2 linked regions of the Homo sapiens genome follow. The protein of the gene in region 1 interacts with the protein of each later gene in a pairwise test. Each region holds a gene or a part of one and is shown on either strand. Other genes may lie near its edges.

Evidence for each region.
Region 2: the proteins of TMEM201 (region 1) and SLC26A6 interact in binary tests that used the Homo sapiens proteins (3 or more experiments, as listed by UniProt).

The regions. Positions count from the first base shown.
Region 1 is NC_000001.11:9,586,643-9,590,551, forward strand, and holds the start of TMEM201 (transmembrane protein 201), read left to right. Parts: upstream 1-2,268; 5' UTR 2,269-2,288; coding exon 2,289-2,401; intron 2,402-2,713; exon of another isoform or gene 2,714-2,956; intron 2,957-2,964; exon of another isoform or gene 2,965-3,128; intron 3,129-3,909. UniProt on the Homo sapiens protein: Critical regulator of angiogenesis and endothelial cell (EC) migration. Promotes the migration of endothelial cells, which is essential for angiogenesis.
Region 2 is NC_000003.12:48,628,829-48,632,490, reverse strand, and holds part of SLC26A6 (solute carrier family 26 member 6), read left to right. Parts: intron 1-94; coding exon 95-246; intron 247-398; coding exon of another isoform or gene 399-446; coding exon 447-611; intron 612-689; coding exon 690-842; intron 843-1,184; coding exon 1,185-1,267; intron 1,268-1,350; coding exon 1,351-1,498; intron 1,499-1,770; coding exon 1,771-1,884; intron 1,885-1,975; coding exon 1,976-2,053; intron 2,054-2,333; coding exon 2,334-2,429; intron 2,430-2,512; coding exon 2,513-2,619; intron 2,620-2,779; coding exon 2,780-2,849; intron 2,850-3,662. UniProt on the Homo sapiens protein: Apical membrane anion-exchanger with wide epithelial distribution that plays a role as a component of the pH buffering system for maintaining acid-base homeostasis.

The sequences.
Region 1 (3,909 bases):
TTGAGGGAAGATACACCTTAAATGATTATTTTGTTTGCTCATGGCTGGTGAAAGCATCAAGACTGCATGGAAAGGCTTTTGCTGGGATACTCACAAGAAAGAGGAGGTCCAGACCCAAGTGAACCTCCAGGTTTCCTGTCTGCTTCACTTTCCAGTCCCCCTTCCCCCCAGTGAATGTGCATGATTCCGGTGTGGACAGAGGAACTGGCTGCAGGAGCAAAAAAACATTTGCCCTCAATCCATCACTACCCACAAAGAGTTTACAATGTTAACCTCAAAAAAAAAAAAGTGATCAGAACACTGGAACATAGTGTGTAATTAGATACAAATATTTTCTGTTTACTTTTTTAAAACTAGTAATTTAGCTGAAATCAATAATGAAACACAGTGACTCTTCCCCTTGAATCTCCTCCCACCACCAGGTAATCAGTTTGCAGTTCAGTGTTAACTATTCTCCACTTCCCACAAGCACATAAGGCTTTATTTAAGCTTTGGATATTATTTAAAAATCAATCTGCATGTTGCTTTTTCTTTTTCTTTTTCTTTTTTTTTTTTTTTTTGAGATGGAGTCTCACTCTGTTGCCAGGCTGGAGTGCAGTGACGCAACCTCAGCTCGCTGCAACCTCCGCCTCCTGGGTTCAAGCAATTCTCCTGCCTTAGCCTCCCATGTAGCTGGGACTACAGGCGCCCACCACCACACCCAGCTAATTTTTGTATTTTTAGTGGAGACCAGGTTTCACCATGTTGGTCAGGATGGTCTCCAGCTCCTGACCTTGTGATCCGCCTGCCTCGGCCTCCCAAAATGCTGGAATTACAGGCGTGAGCCACCATGTGCCCGGCCTGCATGTTGCTTTTTTGTTGTCGTTTTTGTTTTTTCAGAAGGAGTCTCCTGTCACCAGGCTGGAATGCAGCGGCACAATCTTGACTCGTTGCAACCTCCGCCTCCCAGGTTCAAGCGATTCTTGTGCCTCAGCTTCCCGAGTAGCTGGGATTACAGGTGTGCACCACCACGCCCGGCTAATTTTTGTATTTTCAGTAGAGATGGGGTTTCACCATGTTGCCCAGGCTGGTCTTGAACTTCTGACCTCAGGTGATCCGCCCGCCTCGGCCTCCCAAAGTGCTGGAATTACAGGTGTGAGCCACCGCGCCCTGCCTGCATGTTGCTTTTTAAAAACAATGTATCATCCATCTATGCCAATAACTCCAGATCTGGCTTTCTTTTCTTTTCTTCCTTTCTTTCTTTCCTTCTTTCCTTCCTTCTTTCCTTTCTTCCTTCCTTCCTTCTTTCTCTCTCTCTCTCTTTCCTTGCCTTTCCTTTCTTTTTTGAGAAGGAGTCTCGCTTTTGTCGCCCAGGCTGGAGTGCAGTGGCGCGATCTCGGCTCACTGCAAGCTTCGCCTCCCGGGTTCACGCCATTCTCCTGCCTCAGCCTCCCGAGTAGCTGGGACTACAGGCGCCCGCCACCACGCCCGGCTAATTTTTTGTATTTTTAGTAGAGAGGGGGTTTCACCGTGTTAGCCAGGATGGTCTCGATCTCCTGACCTCGTGATCCGCCCGCCTCGGCCTCTCAAAGTGCTGGGATTACAGGCGTGAGCCACCGCGCCCTGCCTGGATCTGGCATTCTTTCTAATGGTTGCATTATGTTCCGAACTATGGCTGTCCTATGATTTATTCAACCATGTCCCTATCCGTGGATGATCGTGTTTCTAAAAAGCTAGTTTTTCAACCATTAGAGCGGCTCAAGGAGCTGCTAAACAGCACTGGGCGCATAGGCTGGGTTTGACTAGACAGGATTAGCGAGGGGGAAAAAGACTAATTACAAGCAGTTGCGTACTCTGGAGATGCTCCCCTTAGCAGAAGCTCGGTGGACTGTCTGCAGCCAGACCTCCGGGCCTGGCGGCTGGCGCGGGAGGCAGAAGGCGGGGCTTTCCTACAGGGCTCCGTGCCCCGCCCTCCCCGCGCCGCCTTCCACCTCCGGCCGCGCGGGGGCGCTCCCCGGCCGGCTCTGTCGCTTCCGCCGCCGCCCCGCCCACCCGGGCTCACCCCTCGTCCCGATTGGCTGCGCGACGGGAGCGCGCCGAGTCAGGGGGCGGGCCCGCGCCCGCTACAAAGCGGCGAAGGTCACGGCGCGAGGAGGCGCGCGTCGCCGCCCCGCGTCCCGCCTGCGGCCCGCGCCCCCGGCGTCACCGCCTCCTGCCCGCCTGCCCGCCTGCCCGCCTGCCCGCCTACCCGCCTACCCGCCTACCCGCCTACCCCCCTGCCGGCCTGCCGTCCTTCCACGCGGAGAGCCATGGAGGGAGTGAGCGCGCTGCTGGCCCGCTGCCCCACGGCCGGCCTGGCCGGCGGCCTGGGGGTCACGGCGTGCGCCGCGGCCGGCGTGTTGCTCTACCGGATCGCGCGGAGGTGAGTGCATGGTTCGGCCCCACGCGGCCCTCTGCGCCGCCCGCCAGGCCCGCCCCCGCGCCGCCCCGGCCCGCTGCCCCCCTCGGCCGGGACCCGGGCTGCCCGCGGGCGCGCGGAGACCCCCGGCGCGCGCCGCCGCCCCCCGAGACCGGGTTGAGACTGCAGTCGGGAAGCGGCTGCGGAGTCGAGTGGAGCGGCGGGGACTCCGGGAACGTGGGGCGCGGGCGAGAGCGCCGCGCGGGGGCCACAAACTTCCTCCGGGAGCCGCGGGGGGCTGGAGCCGGTGCGCACGGGCCGCCCCTGCCCTCAGCCCCGTGCTGGGCCCCGGTGCACGGCGATGCTGGCGATCGCGGCTGGCGGTTGCTGCTCGGCATGTGACGTCCCGGGCGTTTTTCTACACGCCTCGCATCCGCGCGTTTCAGAGCCACAGCCCCTGCTTACGCTAGAGCAGCTGAGGGACAGGGAGGCTCAGTAACTTGCTGTTAATGAGAGGAATCATGGTTTGAGCCGATGGAATCTGCAGGGCAGACCCCGAGGCTGGGCTGCCTCCCAGAGGTGGGCAAGGCCTGAGATGCCTCCAAACAGTTCAAGACGGGCCGGGGCCACCCTCCTCCCTGCCCGGCTCACGGGCCATGCGGGCCCCCGGGTTCAGATCCGGCCTCTTTCATCGGCCTCCATCGCCAGGCATAAAAGCTTAGTGGCCTGTTGCTTCAGCAGAGCCTCGCAGGTAGCTTACTGTTTCTCCACTTGATCCACCTTTCCAGAGGGCAGGGGGGAAAGTGGGGTTGTGAGAACATCCTAGAAAGAGTGGATGGGTTTGCAGCTTCGGCAAGGGATGCAATGAGCTCACACCCTTAGGAAAAAGGGGAGAAGGGACTTGCCCACTCAGCAGCAAGTGGCAGAGCTGGGGTTTGAACCCTGATCGTCTGGCTGGTCTGTTTGTTCTTCCTTAACACATACCGGTGCTGCTTCTCTCCTCCAGGGGGGAAACGGGGAAAAAGAAGTACAGGTGGTTGAGTCACAGAGGCTTCCCAGAGGAGGAAGGCATGGGAGGGACATCAGCTGTGTCTGGAGGATGGGCCAGATGTGACTGAGGAGGGTAGCTGGGGATTGAGTGACCCCAGCCCAGAGGTCCCTGACAACCCAAGTCTCTCCATGTCGGTTTCTGCTGGATTCCTGGAAGTTGAGCATCTGCAGGACCAGCTTGTCCAAGCCGGTGGTTTTATACCCAGGGGACCGAGGTCCAGAGACCTCAGGTGATTTGCTCACATTCCCAGAGCATGTTGCCAGCTGAGCTGGTCCAGCACCCGGTGTTCTTCCTGGACGAAGCCGCCTCTCAGCTAACCCAGGATGGGGGGTGTTGCCTCAAGGATGAGAGCCTGGGGGAGGGGATAGTCTGCCAGCCACACAGCACCTCCGTTGTGTTTATTGAGGCTGGACTTGGACTGGGTGGCTCACTGTGCCACACACTGCAGCTGTCCTCAGGGATGCTGTCTCCCCTTCCTGCC
Region 2 (3,662 bases), on another chromosome or scaffold:
AACTGGAAGTCTCCTGGCCTCTCTCTTAAGACCAGGGCTCCAGGGCAGGGCAGTGTCCTCTCCTCTTCAGACCTGCCCCGTGCCGTCCTTACAGGGACCTTTGCTGTCATGTCTGTGATGGTGGGCAGTGTGACAGAATCCCTGGCCCCGCAGGCCTTGAACGACTCCATGATCAATGAGACAGCCAGAGATGCTGCCCGGGTACAGGTGGCCTCCACACTCAGTGTCCTGGTTGGCCTCTTCCAGGTGTGGAACAGTCAGGAGTATGTGCCCCCCACCACCACTTCTGCTCCCGCCACTGTCCTGTCTGTACTCCCCTGAGTGTCTGACCATCGTCGTCCTCCTCTTGCCGTCTACTCATCCCCCTCCCATCCCACTTGCCCTGCGCTCCTCATTAGCAACCCCAGGACCCCTGCCTCTCCTGACTGCCCCTGGCCGCCCCACAGGTGGGGCTGGGCCTGATCCACTTCGGCTTCGTGGTCACCTACCTGTCAGAACCTCTTGTCCGAGGCTATACCACAGCTGCAGCTGTGCAGGTCTTCGTCTCACAGCTCAAGTATGTGTTTGGCCTCCATCTGAGCAGCCACTCTGGGCCACTGTCCCTCATCTATGTGAGTGAGGGTAGGGGGAGGGAGGGGTAGGTGTGCCCCATGGCCTTGAGTGCTAGCTGTGACCTGGCCTCTCCTCAGACAGTGCTGGAGGTCTGCTGGAAGCTGCCCCAGAGCAAGGTTGGCACCGTGGTCACTGCAGCTGTGGCTGGGGTGGTGCTCGTGGTGGTGAAGCTGTTGAATGACAAGCTGCAGCAGCAGCTGCCCATGCCGATACCCGGGGAGCTGCTCACGGTTCGAGGGCCAGGGAGTGGAGGGCAGGGGAGAAGGGCAGGTCAGGCTGGGTCCTTGCCACGTGGGCAGCCTCCTGTATTTGAGGGCCAGCTGGAGGGGGGCTGGGAGGGTTCTTGGGTATTGTGGGGGGCACAGCAGAAAGCCCCTATGTTGGTTTCTTCCTGCCCCTGACAGCATCTCCCCATAGCCGAAATGGTGTTGCCTGTCTCTCACCCTACGTGACTTTTTCCCACCCTCGAAGAAGGTTTTGCCCAGTATCTCCCTCCTCACCTCACAGTGGTTTATGTGTCCCCCTGACCATGGTGCCAGCACCTGCCTCCCTGACTCTGTCCTCTCCCACAGCTCATCGGGGCCACAGGCATCTCCTATGGCATGGGTCTAAAGCACAGATTTGAGGTAGATGTCGTGGGCAACATCCCTGCAGGGTGAGCTCTGGCCTCCATCAGGTCAGGGAGGGTTGGGCAGCCAGGACAGGACCTTGCTTTGGCCTCACAGATACCTCTCACAGGCTGGTGCCCCCAGTGGCCCCCAACACCCAGCTGTTCTCAAAGCTCGTGGGCAGCGCCTTCACCATCGCTGTGGTTGGGTTTGCCATTGCCATCTCACTGGGGAAGATCTTCGCCCTGAGGCACGGCTACCGGGTGGACAGCAACCAGGTCTGGGTGATGCGGGATGTGTAGGAGGCATCCAAGTGTATGGAGGCGCCAGCAACGGGTGGGGGAGGAACCGGTGGGACACAGGGAGACAGCAGATGTGCTGAGGCCACGTGGGGGACTGAGGGTGGGAGAGCAGGACGTGTGGGACAGCATCCAGTCTCTGGGGGCCACTTGGTGGGGATGGAGATTGGGGATGCACAGGCCTAGATACAGTGGAACAGTGACCAGCCACTTCTAGGAAGTCTTCTCACACCCGTACTGTCCCCCGTCAGGAGCTGGTGGCCCTGGGCCTCAGTAACCTTATCGGAGGCATCTTCCAGTGCTTCCCCGTGAGTTGCTCTATGTCTCGGAGCCTGGTACAGGAGAGCACCGGGGGCAACTCGCAGGTGGGCTTTGGGTGTGGGCATGGGTGTGGGCATGCACATTGCTTTGCCTGGGGAAGGAGGTCTCTCCCCTGCTCACTCCCTCCCCGAACAGGTTGCTGGAGCCATCTCTTCCCTTTTCATCCTCCTCATCATTGTCAAACTTGGGGAACTCTTCCATGACCTGCCCAAGGTGAGCCCCCACCCAGCCAGGTTTCAGGTCTTGGCCAGGCCAGGGCTCTCAAATCAGCCAGTCTAGGTTCAGGCGAGGGGTGGGGACACAAGGTTAGGTTCTGTTTTTCAAGGCTGAGATCTTCAAGGTGAGATTTGGAGACAAGGGTCAGGGGCTGGGTGGGGGTTTGTGTCTGGGGTACTGCCTGAGTGCTTGGGCTTAGTCTGGCTTTGCCTCGGTGAGGAGGGTTGTCAGCATCGGGTGCCCTCAATGGCCCCTGGTGGCACTGTCCCCACCCCAGGCGGTCCTGGCAGCCATCATCATTGTGAACCTGAAGGGCATGCTGAGGCAGCTCAGCGACATGCGCTCCCTCTGGAAGGCCAATCGGGCGGATCTGGTGAGTGCACTGGGAGCCCAGGGCAGGGACTGGGCAGCCCCATGGCTCCTCGCCGCCCTCCAACCGCTGCCCTCTGTTCTCAGCTTATCTGGCTGGTGACCTTCACGGCCACCATCTTGCTGAACCTGGACCTTGGCTTGGTGGTTGCGGTCATCTTCTCCCTGCTGCTCGTGGTGGTCCGGACACAGATGTGAGTCCGCCATGTTGGTCCCCTCATTCCAGCTAGTGAGAGAGTACCACAGGGCTCCCCGCAGCTTTCCCCACATCTCTGGGGACTTCAGGCTCCTTCGGACCCCTCTGTTATCCCCTTTTTCTGCCCCCTCTTCGTGCATTCTCTCTCTCCTTCACAGGCCCCACTACTCTGTCCTGGGGCAGGTGCCAGACACGGATATTTACAGAGATGTGGCAGAGTACTCAGAGGTGAGTGTCAGGGGCTGAGTGAGATGGTGTGGATGGGGAGACGGAGGAAGAATGAGCCTTTGTGGATTCGTTCCACACTTGGCCAGGGAACTGGGGGCTGAGGATACTTTGGCTTTGGTCTTTGGGATTTCAAGGGAGGAGTTTAGGTCTATGACCCCCTCTAGAGGTATGAAGGGACAGAGGGAGAGTGGACAGAGATGGGTCTGGGGCTGGGGAGGGGTCTGTCGTGGAGTCAACAGCACAAGCTCCACCTGCAGAGCAGCCGTGGGTCAGAGAGCCGGAATGGCAGCTCCCTGGGGCGCCAGGTTGGAAGGGAGGCATTTCCTGATCTGATCAGTGGGGTTACTAAGTCCTCAGTCATCCATTTATCTCCTGAGAGGTCTTGGGCCAAGTGCTAGGAACATAGGTGGGGGGCTCTGGAATAAAACAAGGCTGTTGCCTGCAACATGGGCACAGTGCAATTAGGCAGTGCGGGGAGGAATTAAGGGGTCTGAGACATGGGAGAGGATGAGGGGGCAGCCCAGCCCTTACCATGCATGCCTGGAGCCCAGCAGAGACCCGGGCTGTGACCCGAATGGGGTGGGAGCGGGGAAGGTCTGATTGATATGACAGCCTAGGAGGACCTCTGTCTGGGTGCAGAAAACAGAACACAAGGCAGGGGTTGGAAACCCAAGAGAAAGGTTAAGAGCCTGTGAAGCCTGCCTGGGTGGTGGCAGGAGAGGTGGGGAGGGAGAGGCACTGTGGGGGGATGGGGATGACACCGTCGGGCTTGTGGCCTAAGCCCCTGGGAGGGCCTGGACTGCAGCCTGGGGA